Linked DNA regions of Homo sapiens: region 2 is linked to region 1. The links come from fine-mapping of genetic effects on gene expression. A gene starts in region 1. The other region holds a variant in brackets. All regions are shown on one strand. Distances are between the middles of the regions.

The links. PIP is the estimated chance that this variant, and not a neighbour inherited with it, causes the effect.
Region 2: its variant is fine-mapped to the expression of HS3ST2 in iPS cells (HipSci, PIP 0.95).

What each region holds. Positions count from the first base shown.
Region 1 is chr16:22,809,247-22,818,483 of GRCh38, forward strand. It overlaps HS3ST2 (heparan sulfate-glucosamine 3-sulfotransferase 2), which reads left to right and starts at 4,916. Exons shown (of 2, transcript NM_006043.2): 1 at 4,916-5,849. The coding sequence starts at 5,365. LOC107984851 (collagen alpha-1(XVI) chain) reads right to left here and starts at 5,613. Exons shown (of 4, transcript XR_001752349.2): 1 at 5,461-5,613; 2 at 3,741-4,018; 3 at 3,037-3,155; 4 at 1-1,391.
Region 2 is chr16:22,758,923-22,768,159 of GRCh38, forward strand. No RefSeq gene overlaps it. Among named protein-coding and RNA genes, the nearest start is that of HS3ST2, 51 kb to the right of the region's middle. The variant C/T (reference allele first, on the strand shown) is at 4,932.

The DNA.
Region 1 (9,237 bases):
GGAAGCCCCTTGAGCTTTTACCCTCTGATTTTATCCAAAGAATGAAGCACAACTGAAATCTCTCATTCTCGCTCTCAACCTCTTTCCTAAATGTAGCAGATATATGCACATCCTCTGATTCAGATGCAAACTTTGTACCTCACAGACCCTGCAGACCATGTGGCTCCACTTCACTGTCCTTTGCCTCATAGGAGTCACCCTCTTTGGGACATTTTCTCACATTTTTGCAAAACTCTGCTTTAGGGAACAGATTTGAAGCTTACACACTGAAATAAAACTGAATAACAAGGCTTGATTAGGCCCAAAGACTGAAGGGGAAGAAAATTTCCTATTTTATGATTTTAAATTCAAAGTCTTGAATGCAGGGCATTAGAGTGGGAAGGAAGATTCAAGAGAATGCTAATGTGAAAGAGAAATGGACTCAGAAAAAGAAAAGAAAGAGAGTGTAATGTGCTCTTTGGTTGCTATTCTATTTGAGCCCAGTTCTCCAGCCTTCTTCTTAATTTTGTGAGCTACCCCAAAGTTCCTTTCCTGTGTAAGATATCCCAAATCTCTTTTTTTCACTTCTAGTAACCCTTACTGTTTCATAAATAAAGAGCAATGGCAGTTAAGAATGAGAAGCAAAATAAATAAGATACAAGAAAAGTAGAGAAGTTGAAGAAAGTAACTGGATCCTATGACTGTCTCAAATTTGGAAGGGTTGCAGTCCTGATACATGCATATCCTTCAAAATAAGCCCCCCCACCTCCAACACTTTTTATTAAAATGGTATCTATTCCTTGCAACGGAGGGAGCAACTCTTTTTGTTTGTTTGTTGTATTGGTCAGCACTCTTTCAGTTGCAAGTGCTAACAGAAAGATAGCTAATCACTGCAGCAATAAAGTCCAGGGTCCATGCATTCCGCATGGCTAGATTCAGAGGTTCAAAGGATATTATCAGGAATCTAATTCTCCCTCCATCAGTTCTGCTCTCCTCTTTGTTGGCTTTATTGTTGGTTTCTCCTCTTGATAGCAGAGATGACCATTGGAAGCTTCAGGCTTATTTTAGATTAATTCATCATCTCAGAAAAAGAAGTTTCTCTTTTCCAATAGTTTTCACAAATGTTGTGTGGTTTATTCTCACTAGAAAGATTTGAGTTACTTTCAGTTCTTGAAATATAATTAGAAAGTGATGATGTCAGGCTTGGTCATATGCCTGTCTTTGAACTATGTTCAACCCATACAAACCACATGGGAATAAAAGAGGGAAAACTGTTTGTCCAAGGATGGCAAGGATTACTAGTTGTCCTCCATAACCATTCTTTAGTTCTTTCTTGATACCAAAATCTCAAAGTGTTAGCCAGGCATACAGCCATCCAGAATCAAGACTGCATTTTGAAGCATCTCTTGAAGCTAGAAAGTCAAATGATAAAATGCTGTCAAATTGAATACGAGTTGAAATAATACAGGCAACTTCCAAGAAATGTCCTTAAACAGATATGGCATGTCTTTACATATTTACTAATGACCAGAATGTGAACATTCTGGCTGCAGATGAATAAGTCATTGTAGACTATGTGGTGACTTTAGAATGGAGGAAATGCATGGTAGAGTAACAAGATAGAGGGAGCCTGGGTCCCAAACACTTTGGAGCTTCCATACAAGCCCTAAAGTACCTTCATCTGGACTTTCATGTGATTACAAAAATAAACATATACCTTGCTTAAGTGGGTGTTAATTGACAAACTACACAACCCAGCATAATCCTACCTGATACCCCCAAAGCAGAATCACGTTTGCTACTGTAAACAGATAAAGGTTTAGGAGATGGGCAGGTATGTCCAATGTCTCACTTCCTAAAAAATTCTATCCAAGTCAGTCATTACTCTGATTGGAAATTTGAAGAGGAAAATCTTCCTGGTTTTGATATATGTGAGTACCCAGGGATATCACAGTTTATGAATTCAAAGGTTAAAAATTATTTAAAAATTAAGCCAAGCACAGAATTATGAGAAATCATTATATTCATGTTTTATTTTCTAAGGGAAATAGTACTGATCACAGCAGATGACTCCACATTTAACCTTGTAATTTTAACAATGGAATACAAAAATAGCAGGTTCATGATGTGAATAATTGTTCAAAGTATATATAAGAGCTCCTTCCAGGCCAGGCATTGTGGCTCATGTCTGTAATTCTAGCACTTTGGGAAGCTGAGGCAGGAGGATCACTTGAGCTCAGGAGTTCAAGACCAGCTTGGGCAACACAGTAAGACTTCATCTCTACAAAAAATTAAAAAACTAGCTAGGTGTGGTGGCACATGCCTGTAGTCCTAGCTACTCAGGAGGCTGAGGCAGGAGGATCCCTTGAGCCCAGGAAGTGGAGGCTGCAGCATGAGCTATGATTGCACTACTGCATGCCAGCATGGTCAACAGAGTGAGACACTTCCCCTCACCCAAAAGAAGAAGAAGAACTCCTTTAAGTATATTTGTTTTGACATTTTTATTAACAATTAGAATGAGGAATTAATTAAATTGTGATCAACTGTGGAAATTACATGATGCCAAGTGAGTGGTTCATGCTTTGGGTAATGGAATCATAGAATCATGCAACATCTAAACTTTGAGAGACTTTTAAGGTGAATCATAGCGTCCCATTTTACAGCTGAGGAACCTGAGGCTTAAAGGGGGTCCACTTGCCCAAAGTACACCTGGAATAAAGGGTAAAGCTGGGATACAATCTTTCTACTTTTTCTTTTTGAATAAATGAAAGCTACCTCGTGGTTTGACTTCAAATAGACATTTAAAAAAAACTAGGGCAGCGAACTGATGAGACAAGATGAAATGCAATCAAGTCAAATCTATAAGGACCTACACATTGGGTCCAAAAAGGCCCACTGTACAAGCACAGTATGGGGTAGCTGTGCCTTAATCAGCAGCACTTGTAAGAAACATTTAGAGATGTTACTTGGCTGCAAGTTTGAGATGTCAGCAGTGTGATATAGCCACAAGAAAAAGATAATGGAGTCTTAGGTGGCATTACTAGAAATAGAACTTACAAAAGAGAGGTGAGAGTCCTGTTGAACTTTTCAATCCATATCTGAAATTCCTCGCGCAGTCCCAGGTGTGAGATTTTAGAAGAGACATAGACAAATTAGCTTACATCCAGGAGAGGAGCCTAGGATGGAATTATATGAATAATGGTCAAAGGAAGTTAGGAAGCTGCAAAGTGCTGTAACTAAGAGCTTGAATCTTGGAGTCAAGACTGCCCGGGTTTAATCCCAGCTCTGCCAGTTACTGTGTATATGTTTGTTAAATCTTCTTATCACTGCCTGTAGATTAGAAATTACAATAATACCTATCTCCAAAGATAAATGAGGTAGTGCATGTCAAGTGATTAGCGCATAACTCCCATAAAACAAGCACTCAATAAATGCTAGCTACTATTAGAATTAAGACAGCAAAGTGATGCCAGGGTAATGGTAACAACTTCATAGGTTGTGAATATTTAATCAGTTAACCCATGCCAGGTGCTTGATACAAAGTTGGCAGCTATTATTATTATCTGCCGTAGAATTGGTTTAAGGTTTCTAGGGATGGGACTAGTTTGGGGACAAAATATTTTCTGGTTTGGGCTAAGATCCACAGAACCTAATGATCAGTTTACAGCCTGAGGAAGGAAGTCAGTTATACCCTGATCAGGGTGGGGGTCATGGTGGTCATCTAGACATTCTATGGCTGGGTGGTGGTGGAGGGCACTCACCTTGTGAACACTCGGACATGGTGAATTGGCATTGGCATTGCTGTTGAAGGACAACTCAGCCGTGTTCTTAGCCATGGCCATTTAGGCCTGTTCTGATGCAGGGTTCTGATCCAAGGTACCAGTGTGGTCCCTCAGGGAAGTACTGGGGATCGTCACTTATGCCTGTTCTGGACATGGTCACCGAGAACTGTCCTGTAGGCATTCACTTAGGAATCATTCGAAGTGGAATTGCTCCTGGATACGTTCTCCTTGTACTCTGTTTCCTCCTCCTAGTGTCTCTGTGTGAAGAAGCCCTCCTCACTCAGCCCTCGGCGACCCTCTGGTACCCTGGACAGCTCCCCGGGGAGCAGTCTACCGCTAGGCGGCGGCTGCTAAGAGAGGAACCCTCCTGACGCGGAGTCTGCCGCTCCGGGGCTCGCTCTCCGGCAGGCCCGGGGAGAGGTGGGGTGACAATGGGTTGGGGTGCGCGCGTGCCTCATAGGTGCGAGACAGAGCGAGCCGCCGGGGTGTGAGTCAGCGCGCTGGGGGCTAAGAAGCTGGGTGAATAGTCACGGAATCTCACTCACGCTCGGCTCCTCCACCCATCCCGTCTACAGCGCGTGTCCCAGTCCAGGGCGTGCGTGCGCTCGGTGTCCGATTCCGGGCTGTGTGTGTCCATTTGGCGAGATGTCGAGAGCGGGGGGAGTGTCCTTGTCGGTGTATCTGGGCCCAGGTTAGGGGACTTCTCCTCCCCACCCCCGCGTGGGTGTGGGGGTGTGTCCGGGCTAGGGCGCGTGTGCTTCTGTGCCTGTGCGTGCGTGTGCGGGTCAGGGTGGTGGGACCGCGCATCAGGGCAGGGTGCCTGCGTCTGCGTCTGGGTCTGTCTGGTCTGCATGTCGGCGCGATCTCGACCTGGATTCGTGTCCCTGGATGTCGAGAGGCCAGCGTGGTGGGGGTGTCCAGCCTCCCGGAGGAGTACTATGCCTTGACACCTTCGTTTCACCGCCCCAAAGCTGGCCTGGGGCTCCGTAGGGAGTGGCCTGCATGGGGAGGGCCCGCGTGCTGTGTTTCTGGGAGGGGTAAGAGAGTGGGGGCGCAGGGGGCGGGCCAGGTCCCTGGGCGCGGCGCGGGCTCGGGGGACCCGCGCGGCTGACGTCAGGCCACTCCTTAAATAGAGCCGGCAGCGCGCTCCGCTCGGCATTTCCCGAAGAGCCAGATCGCGGCCGGCGCCAGCGCCACCGTCCGGTCCACCCGCCAGCCCGCACAGCCGCGCCGCCGCCGAGCGTTTCGTGAGCGGCGCTCCGAGGATCAGGAATGGGGCTTCGGGCGCTGGGCGCGCTCCGAACCCGGCGCACGTAAGAGCCTGGGAGCGCCCGAGCCGCCCGGCTGCCCGGAGCCCCATCGCCTAGGACCGGGAGATGCTGGAAATGCAACCGCCTGTTCCCCGAGGAGCCGCTGCCCCCGGGACCCCCTGGCACTGTGCGCACCCTGGTCAGCAGCCCCCGGAGAAGACGGCGCCCCCAACGCCCGACCCGCGTGGCCGTGGCAGCGCCACGCGAGCCCTCTAGGCGACCGCAGGGCCACAGCAGCTCAGCCGCCGGTGCCCCCTCGGAAACCATGACCCCCGGCGCGGGCCCATGGAGCCATGGCCTATAGGGTCCTGGGCCGCGCGGGGCCACCTCAGCCGCGGAGGGCGCGCAGGCTGCTCTTCGCCTTCACGCTCTCGCTCTCCTGCACTTACCTGTGTTACAGCTTCCTGTGCTGCTGCGACGACCTGGGTCGGAGCCGCCTCCTCGGCGCGCCTCGCTGCCTCCGCGGCCCCAGCGCGGGCGGCCAGAAACTTCTCCAGAAGTCCCGCCCCTGTGATCCCTCCGGGCCGACGCCCAGCGAGCCCAGCGCTCCCAGCGCGCCCGCCGCCGCCGTGCCCGCCCCTCGCCTCTCCGGTTCCAACCACTCCGGCTCACCCAAGCTGGGTACCAAGCGGTTGCCCCAAGCCCTCATTGTGGGCGTGAAGAAGGGGGGCACCCGGGCCGTGCTGGAGTTTATCCGAGTACACCCGGACGTGCGGGCCTTGGGCACGGAACCCCACTTCTTTGACAGGAACTACGGCCGCGGGCTGGATTGGTACAGGTAAGGACCAGGAGCTCCGCTCCGTGCGCCGGGTCTCTGATCGCTTCCATTGGGAGAGCCATCCGTCTCTTGTGTTTTCTCTTTCTTTTAACCCAACTCATTGTATGGGTTCAGGCTGACACACAGGGCCATGGGGGGCTATAGCAGAATTTACCCAGAACTTCCCAGTGATAATCTAGACGGGCAGTTTCTGGAACTGCAAAGGGCGTTCCCTCGTCACTGGAGTCGTTGGAAAAGGATTATCTCCAGTCAAACCTAAGTGCCAGCTAAAGGGCTAACTCCCTCTGTGACCAGCCCTTAGGGTGCCCAAGGAAGGGACAGGCGAGGACCTGTGCTGCCTGAACACGGCACCATCCTAACCCTCTGTAGGTCTTTGCTGGTACCCAGCCCCTGAAGGACCCTGAGAAAGATAAGGCAGTTCAGAGACCCCTTGCAGCAAGGCTCTGTTTGGGAAAGGTCCCCAGAGTTCAGGCCAAATGACAGTGCATCGCCAGAGGTCTCCAGTAAGAAAGATGCCTTAGGGAGTCTCAATCTCAAACCCAGGTATTTGCTGCTGTACTGGGGCTGAGACCCCCAGTAGCTCTGGCCCTGGTAGGTGGTCTTTGAGTAGTGGAAAGAGCCCTGGATTCGAGTCTTGGGTCTGTCACTTAAGCTTGAGCAAGTTTCTTAAACTCTATCAGCCTCTATTTTCTCATCCATCCCAATGGGCAGGAAAACAGCCCTTGCCCTGTATACCTTCCAAGGCTTTTCTGAAGTGCCTTAAAGGTGTAAAAAAGGCACTTCACTTTAAGTGATGCTTCTAAACCAGCAGCCAAAATGTGGAATTTGAAGGTGGGCCCTGCGGGTGAAGGCTAGCAAGGGTGCTAGGGGCAGCCAGTCATGCATAGACTGTCTATGCTTCCCATGCATGCCAGGGAGGAGAATTATCCCCACTGGGGGAGTCAAGGCACAGACCAAAGCTTCTGTGAGGTGGCAGCGTCCACGCCTCAATGCCTTTCTGCCTCCCTAGCCCTGTATGGTGCTGAAGTGTAGGACTGGCCCACATGTGGGTGGTGTAATGTCCCGGCTCCCTGTTAACACATAGGTCACAGAATTCTCACAATTCACCTGACCCTTTGAAGACTTTCTAGAAACATCTGCATAGTAATGACGTTGGGGAGGGGTAACATGGTAGCTGACAGAGTAGCTGAGGCTAAATCTGCTGTTTTTATCTACAGCTTTAGGCAGTAGAGGTCATATGCATATTGGACAAGGGACAACTTTGTTAGAAAGAGGACCCCACTGGGCTTATAATAGAGGGCCCTGGATTTACCAAAAGTAGGGGGACCGCAGGCCTGATTTAGCACCTTTGCAGGTTACTCCTGGCTCGCAATGGTTGTAGTTGTGGGGACGAGTGGGTCATGCATCATCCTTAGCAGGCAGACACATAGTCTGTCCCCATTGCAGCCAACCAGGGGCTAGCTAGCCTGTGGGTGGCCCCAGCACCATTATGTCTGGTTAATAGGGTAGGGTGGCACAGAGTGGCAGATCTGGCTTCATGCCAATGCCAATAGCCCACTGTGCTTTCCAAGCTGTGACTCATGGGCATCCCGTCTAGGTGCATGTGGACACTGTCTGAGTCAGATCCCGGGATGGAGGAGGCAAACACATTGAACAGCAGAGCCCAGAGTGGGTCAGCCATGACCACATTCGAATGCAGGCCAGCATTTCCTCGATGGAAAATCTGAAGATCATTATGACACCTTTTGCCAATGCGAAGTGCCTTTTAAGTGCAAAACAGCAAAATTCTGAGCATCTGGCTTTCAGATAGTGTGCCCTCCAATAAATACCTATGCCCTGAACCCAGACTCTCCTCCCTCCCCTCTCTTCCTTCCACCACTAAACAGCATACCTCAGGCTTCCATCCTGGAGCCCATGTCATTCAGGGATGGCTGCTTTTTATTTTTAACCTTGGCATGTGTGATTCTAAGCAAGCTTAGCTGTGAACCTTAGAGAGGGAAGCCATGTCTTATTTTTTATTTATTTATTTTTTTTTAGCACATTTGGATTCTGCTAAAATTCTCAGCTGAGTCTTGGTAGGTTTTATTTAACATCAAGCATGCTGACAGCTCTGCTTCTCTCTTCTCTCCCCCTCTACCACCTTTCCCCACTTTATATTTCTAAAAGACTATCCTAGAGGTCTGGTCGTAATTGCCCTCTCCCCATTGCTTGACCAGGAAGGCTGGGAGGCTCCAGTGTCAGGAAAAGGCTGTGTGGTTTGTGCTTCTTTCAGTTACAAATCCACACCCCTAGAGTCAAGTGTTTAGCTTGTGGATTGCCATTTCTGTGCAGGGTAATACTACCCCACTTAGATGCTGTTTCCATAACCTCCAGAACATCTTTCTGTATGTAAAGAACATTTTTGTACATTTCTTTTTATTATGACCAAGTCATACACATTAACTGCAGAAATCATGGGGATTTCTGGAATCTTTTAAAACCCATGTTCTTACTTTCTTCCTGAATCCCATGAGCTAGGTACGGTGGGTGACAGGATGTTCCGCTCTCTGTCCACTGCCTTGTCAGTTCACAGCTTGCCATCATAAAGCCAGGGTCCACTGGGCAGACATAGCCAAAGAACCCTTGCACCCATTGGAGTGGACTGTGCTTTCCAAAGGGGGAGGTGCAGAGTTGCAGGCAGTGTGGATCTTAGTATGATCTGCCCACATCAAAGCCCCTGGTGATAACTTCCTGATCAGGAGGCTGAAATCCAGATAGTGGAAAAATCAAAAGCTTTACCCTTAACCCAAAGGAGGGGCTTCTTTCTGTGGGTAAATGGAGATAAAGCTGAAGGCCGAGTGATATAGCCAGAAAGACACCATCATTTGGAGAGACCAGGAGACAGAGTCTGCACCTTCTTGTCCTTAGCCTGATCCTTCTTGGGAACCACTCCCGTTCAGGCCACTACCAGAGAGCCCAGCCTTCTGCAGTGGGTTCTCTCCAATTTGCTGTCTTTCTGCCATGCCATCTCTGATGCTTACCTCAACTATGTGTCTGGCCTGGGTTCTCCCCCACCCACATTTCCTCCCCGAGGTAAGAGCTGCAGGGTGGTATCTCCTAGCTGCTTGGACAGGTGGGCAAAGCAACACCAGGCTGATGAGGGAACCAGGACAGGGAACCACAGTCAGAAGACCAGAGGTGGTCACCTAGGTGCTGTATGATTTGAAGAAAGGTGATTCTCCCAAGTCTCAGCTTCCTCATCATGGAATGGGACCTGTAGTAACTATCCTAGAAACGTGTTGTGAAGAATAAATGCAAAACTGTACATGAAATTGCCCTGGAAAATTCTATGATATATAAAGACAAGGCAGTAATGTTACTACTGTTATTGCTACTAATTACTACAACA
Region 2 (9,237 bases), 50 kb before region 1:
TTATGTATCTATCCAGCCCCTAAATAACTTGGCACACCAAGTTTTTGCTTTGCATCCATGTTTTTAAAATAAAATTTAGAATATACTCAATAAATCTGTATTTAAATCTGTATTTATTTTCACTGAAAATATATTTTTACTATTTTCCATGCCAGTGATTACTCTCCCATAACAACATATTTGACCACAATCTGGAAAGAATTTAAAGTTCTAGAAAAGTGCAAAGAACAACTTAATAGACATCTATACTCCCACCCTGTGCTGTTAACAACTATTAATATTTTATTATGTTCACTTTCAGTCATTTTTCAAAGGGAAAACAGTACATAGGTAGCTAACGTCTCCTACCAGTGAGTCTTTATTTATTTTTCACAGTTGTAAAGGCACTCTGAAGAATATCATTATTGAGCCTGTACACAATACAAAATTATACGACCTTTGTGTACATCCACCACTCCCTCAGGGTGAAGTCTTGGAAATGGTGGAACTGCCAGATCAGTGGGTGAATTTGTACTCCTGCCTGCCATAAATGATAACTCCCTTGTCCCTATATTCTAGCCAACACTGGCTCATTCTAATTCACTTCAAAAAAAAGTTTCATTTGAGAAAGGTGACATTTTATTATTGCTTTATTTTGTATTTCTTTGATTTCTAGTGATGTGACATATACACTTAATATGTACCAGCCAGTTTATAATTTTTCTATTATTAATTGCATTTTCACATCCTGTGTGCTTTTGTTTGTTGGGTATTCATTGTTTCTTTTTGAGTTAAAGGAGCTGCTTCGATGTTAAGGATATCATCATAAATGGCAAACATATATTCTGCTGTGTATCAATTGCCCTTCAGTTTTATTTATGATGGTTTTTGACATAAGTTGTTACTGTTTTTTATGTGTTATAATCAAGTTTGACAGACTTTTCCTTTATGTTTTCTGCATTTGGTGTCATGCTTAGAAAACCCTTCTCCATCCCTAGTTTCTAAAATTGTTCACCCATGTTTTCAGTGTCCTTATGGTTTATTTTTACATAAAATTTAAAAAAAACTAGAATTAATTTTGGGGTATGGTATGGGCTAAGATTCTAACAAATTTTTCCCAGATGGGTATCATGTTGTCTCAACATAATGATGATTGATTAAAAATGCCATATACTACATTGACTTTTATAGATCTATGTCAATTTCTGGAAATTTTATTCTGTTCCATCAATGTGTATGCCTTTGCTACACATCACTACAGTGTTTTATTACGTCTTTATAATATAGTTTCCTATCTATTTTAATGAATCTCTCTTCTTCTTAAAACTTTGGTCAAACTTGTGTTTTCCTTTTTCTAAATGAGATTCTTAACCAAGGGTGAGCATAAAAACAATCTGTGGAGGACTTTAATTAACCTGCCCAGGGCTCACATCCCAGAAAATTCTGATTCATTGGGTCTGGTGTGGGAGCTGGGCATCTTTCAAAAATAAATAAATAACACATGCATATATACATAATATATGCATTATACATAAAAGACTCCCTAGTTGATGGGGAGGCCCCTAGATTAAGAACCACAGCTCCCACGTGAGAACACATGGACACATAGAGGGGAGCAGCACACACTGGGGCCTATTGGAGGGTGGAAGGTGGGAGAAGGAAAAGGATTAGGAAAAATAATTAATGAGTACTAGGCTTAATACCTGGTGATGAGACAAGTTTACCTATGTAACAAACCCGCACATGTACCCTGAACTTAAAATAAAAGTTAAAATAAATAAATAAGAAGACAAAACCAAATAAAAAGAACCACAGCCCCAGCTTCAAAAGATTTTTATAATTTCAGAATCCTGTGTCAGAGTTCCCCTCTTCTCCCACTTCTATCCTGTTTCCAAGTGCAAGATGCTCCCTGGGGGCCACCTGGGGTGCTCTTATGTAATTGGTCTTGAGGATTTAGCTCAGGCTTTGGGGTTTTTGAAAGCTTCCTCAGTGATTCTAACGTGCAGTCAGGGTTGGTGATGACTGGTTTAGAAACTCCTTCTCAGTCCTGACCACTAAATCCTTGCTCTACTGTACAGATAGAATTCTATCTGTGAATTAGTATGGATTTCAATCCTGGTTATACATCAGAATCATCTGTGGTTCTTAAAAAACAGACTGAGCTGAATGTATACATTAAATATTGACCATCAGCATTAAAAAAATACAACTGGGTGTGGTGGCTGACACCTGTAATCCCAGAACTTTGGGAAGCTGAGGTGGGAGGATAGCTTTAGGCCAGGAGTTTCAGACCAGCCTGCACAACATAGCGAGACCCCTGTCTCTACAAAAAAAATTTAAAAATTAGCTGGGCATGGCGGCATATACCTATGGTCCCAGCTACTCGGGAGGCTGAGGTGGGAGGACGGCTTGAGCCCAGGAGGTTGAGGCTGCAGCGAGCCTATGATTGAGCCACTGCACACCAGTCTGGGCAATAGAGTGAGGCCCTGTCTCCAAAAAAAAAGAAGAAGAAAGAAAATAAGTCCAATTTCATAGTTGATTCTGATGCACAGCAAGACTAAATAGCCATTCTCCAGGTAACTGTCCTTTTTAAATGACTAACTCTATTTTTCAGGTGAGAGACCACCTGTTTAAATACATGCATATAGAACTGATCCTTATTGATATAAATGTTTCATCGTGTTTTAATAGAAAGTGGTTCTCAGACTTAAGCATCAGAGCCACCTGGAGAACTTGCTGGGCCCCAGCTCCAGAGTTTCTGAGTTAGTTGACATGGGCCTAAGAGTTTGCATTTAACAGGTTCCTTGATGCTGCCCCAAGGACCACACTTTGAGAAACATTGAGCTGTGGCATTCATACAAATTTTAGACTTGTTGTGTCACGGAGAAATTACTCCATAGCAATGATCTTAAGCATGCTCTCCAAGCTTAAGATCTGAAGCTGTGATCTGAAGACCCCTGAGAAGTGATGGCAAGGGGTATCCAAAACTCTCTGTGCACCTATCACTGCTGAGAGTCACTGCTAAAGCATCTTATTAAACTCCTAGGGCTGTACCTTCAGTCTGACTTTATTGAGCTTCTTACACATCCCCCTCCAGTTCCAATGTTGCCCTCATTATTGTGAGTGTGTAACCCCTGATGCATGACCTCAGTGGTTGTGGTGTTGCATGACATGGTGTATAGGGTGAATGACAAGTTGTTCCCTAAAGGGTAAGACCTTGCCAGGATTATCTGGGGAAGGGAACATGTCTTAGAATGGGTTGAGGACACTTAGACGGCCAGAAGAACTGCCTCCATACCCAACTCACTTGGAAGCATCATCTTCCAACCCATTTTCTCCAGAGGAGCCAATTAAGTGTTCTACAATGCAACTCCAATCATGTCACTCCCTTGCATAAGCCCTTCAATAGTTCCCCAATGGCTCCTAGAATAAAATCCAAAATTCTGGACATGGTGGTATAGGTTGGGTTCCCCAGAAAACAGATGGAGTTTGGCATGAAGCATGCTCATTCTTAATCCCTTGGGACAAACACTCATGGATGCAGGAGATGGAAACACAAATGGGCAGAAAGAGTTAAGCCACGATATGGGCCCAAAGACAGCCTCAGCTTGTCCCATGGGGAGCTCTGGAGTTGGACTGGTCCATCACTGTTTTCTTGAGTTGAGTAAAGATGGTTACGCCTTTACAGCCCCACCGGGTATGAATTGCCCCATAAAGGGTGTGACAATGGATGAGGCAGCCGTCTGCAGTTGAGACAATCCCTGAAGGTCCTGACCATGGACAGCTGGCCACCACAACATGCCTAGCATCTGGAGTAACAGGTTCTTCCTTAGAATAGGGCCTGAGTGGTAGCAGTGTTCACCACAGATGGCCACAACATTCTTTGCAATCTGGAAGTTGCCTACCTCTCTAATCTCATCTTTTGTTATTTTTCCCCTTATTTTGTCCTCTTCAGGCACATGGTTTTTTCCTTCCATCTCTCAAATCCACCATGTGCCTTTCTGCTCCAGGACCTTTGCCCATGCTCACCTTCCTGCTTAGAATGTCCTCTGCATTTCTGCCCTCCTCACCTCCCATGCAGATATTCAAACTCCTTTTTCAGGTGTTTGCTCCAGAGTTGCTTTCTCTGGGGGAACTTATCCGACCCTCCACCTGTGTAGGATGCTTGGTATATACTTGCAAAGCTTAGGAACCTACTGGACTTGAGCCAGGAAATGAGGGACTCATGCAAAGCTGCCTCTTTCCTTGGGGTTCCATGTTGAGAGAGATGGGCCTGAAAGCCACCGTGAGCTGGCAAGATGGGGTACAGTTAGATTCTTTGTAAGCAGTGTGCTGACTTGCCTTAAAATTTAGCAAAACTTTTTGAAAATTCTGCCCTGTTTTCATTATGCTTTTTTGGGGCTGGAGCTGACCAGGAGAGGCAGCAAGAGCCAGAATCAGAGTGAGGGTCCTCAAATGGAAAGTGACATTTAAGAGGCTCAATTCAAGGGCCCTTGATCAGGCATCCCTCTAAACCAGGGGATCCCCCTTCTTGTATTAAATTGTGGAGATTCAGAGTTTTGTGTTGTTGAATAATAGCAATATAATAACAGCAGCCATGATGCCCTGTATTGAGCATTTACTGAGTAACACCATGCTATGTATTTGCTTGCCTTACCTCACTAATCCTCATATGACCTCTAGGAGGAGGAAACTATCATCTGTCTCTGTTGAAGAGATGAACAGAGGTTAAGCGATTTGCCCAGGATCACACTTGTAATTAGTGGCAGAGCTGGGCTATGAAGCAGTGCTACTGTAGGAACAGAATCGCCAGGCCAATGCAGCATGCATCTGGCCTTTTTGACACAGGTGCCTATCTGAACCTTCTCAAGGGGGTGGCGCCTGTGGCCCAAGTCCCTGGTCCTTAGCAGTCTGCGGAGACCCAGCCTCTGCTGCTGGTTCCATGTACCCAT[C/T]CCCCATCAGGGCTTCCCCCTCCTGCCAGCTCAGCCCTGGCTGCTTAAGTCCCAGCATGCCTCGGGCTGTAGCCAGCCTGAGTTATGACATAACTCGCCTGAAAATTTCCCTGTAAAGGGAAAGGGGCCAATCCAATGTGAATTATTCTTATCGTAAGCTCCCCAAAGCCAGGGACCTTATATGATTTATCTTGGTATAACCCACAGCACTGGGAACAGGGCCTGGCACACAGCACACAATAAATGTTTATGGAATTGACTGAAGTTTTCAGAGAGACGAGGGCAACACACACACACGCACACACACACCCTGGCACACAAGTAGTATATGCACAAGTGCACACACACTATACCTACAAATCCTTCACACCCACACACTCTCTTTACACACAAAGACACTCTGCACACACACACACTGATTTTGTGTGCTCTCTGAGTGTGAGTTTGTGTTTGTGATCTTTCTCTTCCTGTGACATGTCATGTGTATGGCTCCATCACTCATTTTAATTACATTATTGTGGGCTGTGTTTGGCCTTTGGCTATTTTTGAGGCCAGATTAGAAAATTTAAAAACATCCATCTTTCTTCAGGAGAAACTTATAACAGCAATTGCCCTGGGGTGGGGAATTGGGATACAAAAGTAGGGATGGGGGAATTTACTTTTCATGGTCTTCCCTTTTGTTCTGTTTACATTTTTTAAAAAACCATGTGCATGTGTTATCTTTTCAAAAAATAAAAATAGAAACATTTAGGAAAAAAAATAAGAAAGCTACCTTGCTTCCAAAACAACCACTCACTAACATAAAAGCTTTTTATAACTGGGTTAGTTAGAGATTAAAGTTGAGGCCGGTTCTGGACAGGTTCACAGGCCCCTGGAAGCACGTCACCACCACCCATGCTGCTGGCAGCCCTCTAGGGCTTGGGCTCCGGACGTTGTCCAGGATGAGCCCAGAGGGATGTTTCTTCTCCCAGGAGCTCCCCCGTGGTGACCCCCAAACACTCATTTAGTTATTCTCTTTGCTAGGTCAGTGACAAATCTGCAAGGATTAGGCGAAGTAAGCTCTGAAATCTACTCAGTAAGATGAAAATCTGTCCCCTCATTCTCAGGCTCAAGGGGAAGTGATTAAATCTGAGGAGTTGGGCTCAGGGGGCAGGGGGCTTGCTGTAGCCTTTGAGTTCGAAGTTCTGCTGCATCCTTTCCTGTGATTTTAGAATCACTGGCATCTGGTCTCCAGACACAGTGGCAGCTGTTTGGAGCCCCAGAGTCAAACCCAGGGAGGATTGGGGCCTCCGAGGTGGACTGGATACTTAAAACCAGCTAATGAGAGAGCTGGGGCTTTCTTCTGAGTCCAAGATATTCCTGGAGGGATTAATTTTTATCAAATGACTTCTTAATGAGAGTCCGCTTACCTCCAAATTTGGAGACTTTAAAGCTCCTGAAATTTAAAACTAATCAGCAGGCTGGTCTGCCTTGAATGTGAGGAGTTCACACAATTAGAAACTCAAAAGGGAAGAGAACATGTTAGTAACAGCCAGGAGCTAGCAGAGTGGAAAATATTAGCTTGAAATTCAGCAAGTGGCCTTGCTCTGTATCCTTGCAAATTCAGGATAGGTTGCTAGGTTGGGATCTGAAACTGAGGTCCTGGGAGCTGGATCTGGCTGGCAGATATGTTTTCCTTAGCCCACAAATAATTTAAAATTTTGGGAAATTTCATGGACAAATGTGGTTTAAGGAGCTTCTTTGTAAAGTCAGAAATTCTGGCAGGAATAGGACTGCATTCCTGCATAGACAACAAACTCCTTGAGCTGCCTGGCAGCAGTCCCTTTATGATGGGCCATGTGTGGCCCAGTTTGCTGCAGTCTCCAACTTTCCTTTAAGAGGAGAACTGTATGGATTATGTTACCTGCTCAGCCCTTGTGGATATTTGAGTCTGAGCTTCCTGCCCCAGATACACTATACTCATGCTTAGAAGAACTCATGGGATGGACCACTTTGCAAATTTGGGGATGATTTTTTTGACAGTGAGGCCAAGACAATGCCACCGGCCTCAGTTTGGGGAATTCTCCATCCCAACCCACACCTTTGATTTGGCTTCCCCAGTGACTCAGCTTCAGGGAACTAATGTTTCTCTCCTTTACCCTGTTGTGAACAGACTCTAGGATTGTTTCAAATGATCTCTGCCTCCTGGTGCCTTTGTAGAATCTTACCCCTTGCAGGATAGGAAGGACCTGTGACTTCCTTCTAACCCATATAATGGCCATGGTGACAGGATGACACTCTCATGATTATATGACAGAAGACCATAGCATCTGTCTTGCTAGCAGACTGTCTCTCTTTCTGGCTTTGATGAAGCAAGTGAGTATGCTGTGGAGGCCCATGAGCAAGGATCTGAGAGAGGCTCCTGTCCAACAAACAGCTGAGAACTAAGAGGGACCAACAGCCAGCAAGAAACTAAGCCTGTCAGTCCAACAGCCCACAAGGACCTGAATCCTGCCAACAACCACATGAACTTGGAAGTGGCTTCTTCCCCAGTCAAGTCATTGGATGAGATCACAGAGCTGGCTGACATCTTAACTGCAGCCTTGTGAAACTCTGAAGTAGCGAACCCAGGTAAGCCATGATCAGACACCAAACCACTGTCAGAAACTGTGAGACAATAAATGTGAGTTATTTCAAGCTGCTCAGTTGGTGGTATTATAATATTGTTATGTAACAATAGATAACTAACACACATGCCTTTTGGTCTTGGAGTTTCAACAATTAACTCATGGTTTAGAACTGCTAATTGCTGCTACTGATTCTTCGAAATCTGGATCACTTGCCAGGATAGACTCTTTTTTTTTTTTTTTGGTGGGGGAGGAGAGAATACGGCCACACTCCGTTCATACCTCTGGTGTATCATTAACCAAATGTCTCCCACAATAAAATGGCAGTTTCTTGATGGAAGGGATTGTATTCTGTTCATCTTGATGTCAGCAGTGCTGAATATTGTGTATGTGCTCAGTGAGTTGTTGTTGAGTGAATGAACATAGTTGAATGGCTGAATTGTCAATTGCAGGCACTTTTGTCCCCCTCTAGTTCCATTCTTAATGACTGGATCATCTTCTGCTGTTTGAAGGCACCAGAGTTTGATTAATACAGGTGACTAATATTCTTTTTGTATTTATCTTGTTTCTGCAGAATTTTTTGCTAATATAACTAATATAATAATAATAATGCTTCAATTCAGCATTCTAATAGCCAAATGTTTGTGCTCATTTATGATTGTTGTTGGGCCAAAACATATGTGTAATATTATGGTTTTTAATACTTACTGGAAAGATATTTACACTTCTAAAAATATAGTATATAGGAATGTCAACTTTCCCACACATTTACCAGTATTGGTTAGTATTTTTCTGGTTAACCTTTGCCAATTTAATAGGTGGGGATACTATCTTGTTGTTTTATTTGCATTTATTTGCTAGTGAGTGAGGTGGAATTTTTTATTAACAGTTTGTATTTCTTTTATAAATTTATATTTCATGTCCATTGACCATTTTTCTATTGGGAAGGTTGATCTTTATTTTATTGATTTGTAAGAGTTCTTTATATATTAGCTCTTAAGATAAAATATTACATATTATATATTATCATATATATGTTTTGGAACACATTAAAAAATTTTTATTTGGTGAAATTTACTAGTTTTTTATTTTACAGTTCCTGCCTTTTCTTCATACTTAGTTATTTTGAGAAGTATCTGTTCATATCCTTCACCCATTTTCTGATGGGGTTGTTTGTTTGTTTGTTTTCCTTGTAAATTTGTTTAAGTTCCTTGTAGATTCTGGTGAGGCTGTGGAGAAATAGGAATCCTTTTACACTGTTGGTGCGAGTGTAAATTAATTCAACCATTGTGGAAGACAGTGTGACAATTCCTCAAGGATCTAGAACCAGAAATACCATTTGACCCAGCAATCCCATTACTAGGTATATACCCAAAGGATTATAAATCATTCTACTATAAAGACACATGCACATGTATGTTTATTGCGGCACTATTCACAATAGCAAAGATTTGGAACCAACCCAAATGTCCATTGATGATAGACTGGATAAAGAAAATGTGGCACATATTCACCATGGAATACTATGCAGCCATAAAAAAGAATGAGTTTATGTCCTTTGCAGGAACATGGATGAAGCTGGAAGCCATCATTCTCAGCAAACTAACACAGGAACAGAAAACCAAACACTGCATGTTCTCACTCATAAGTGGGAGGTGAACAGTGAGAACACATGGACACAGGGAGGGGAACATCACACA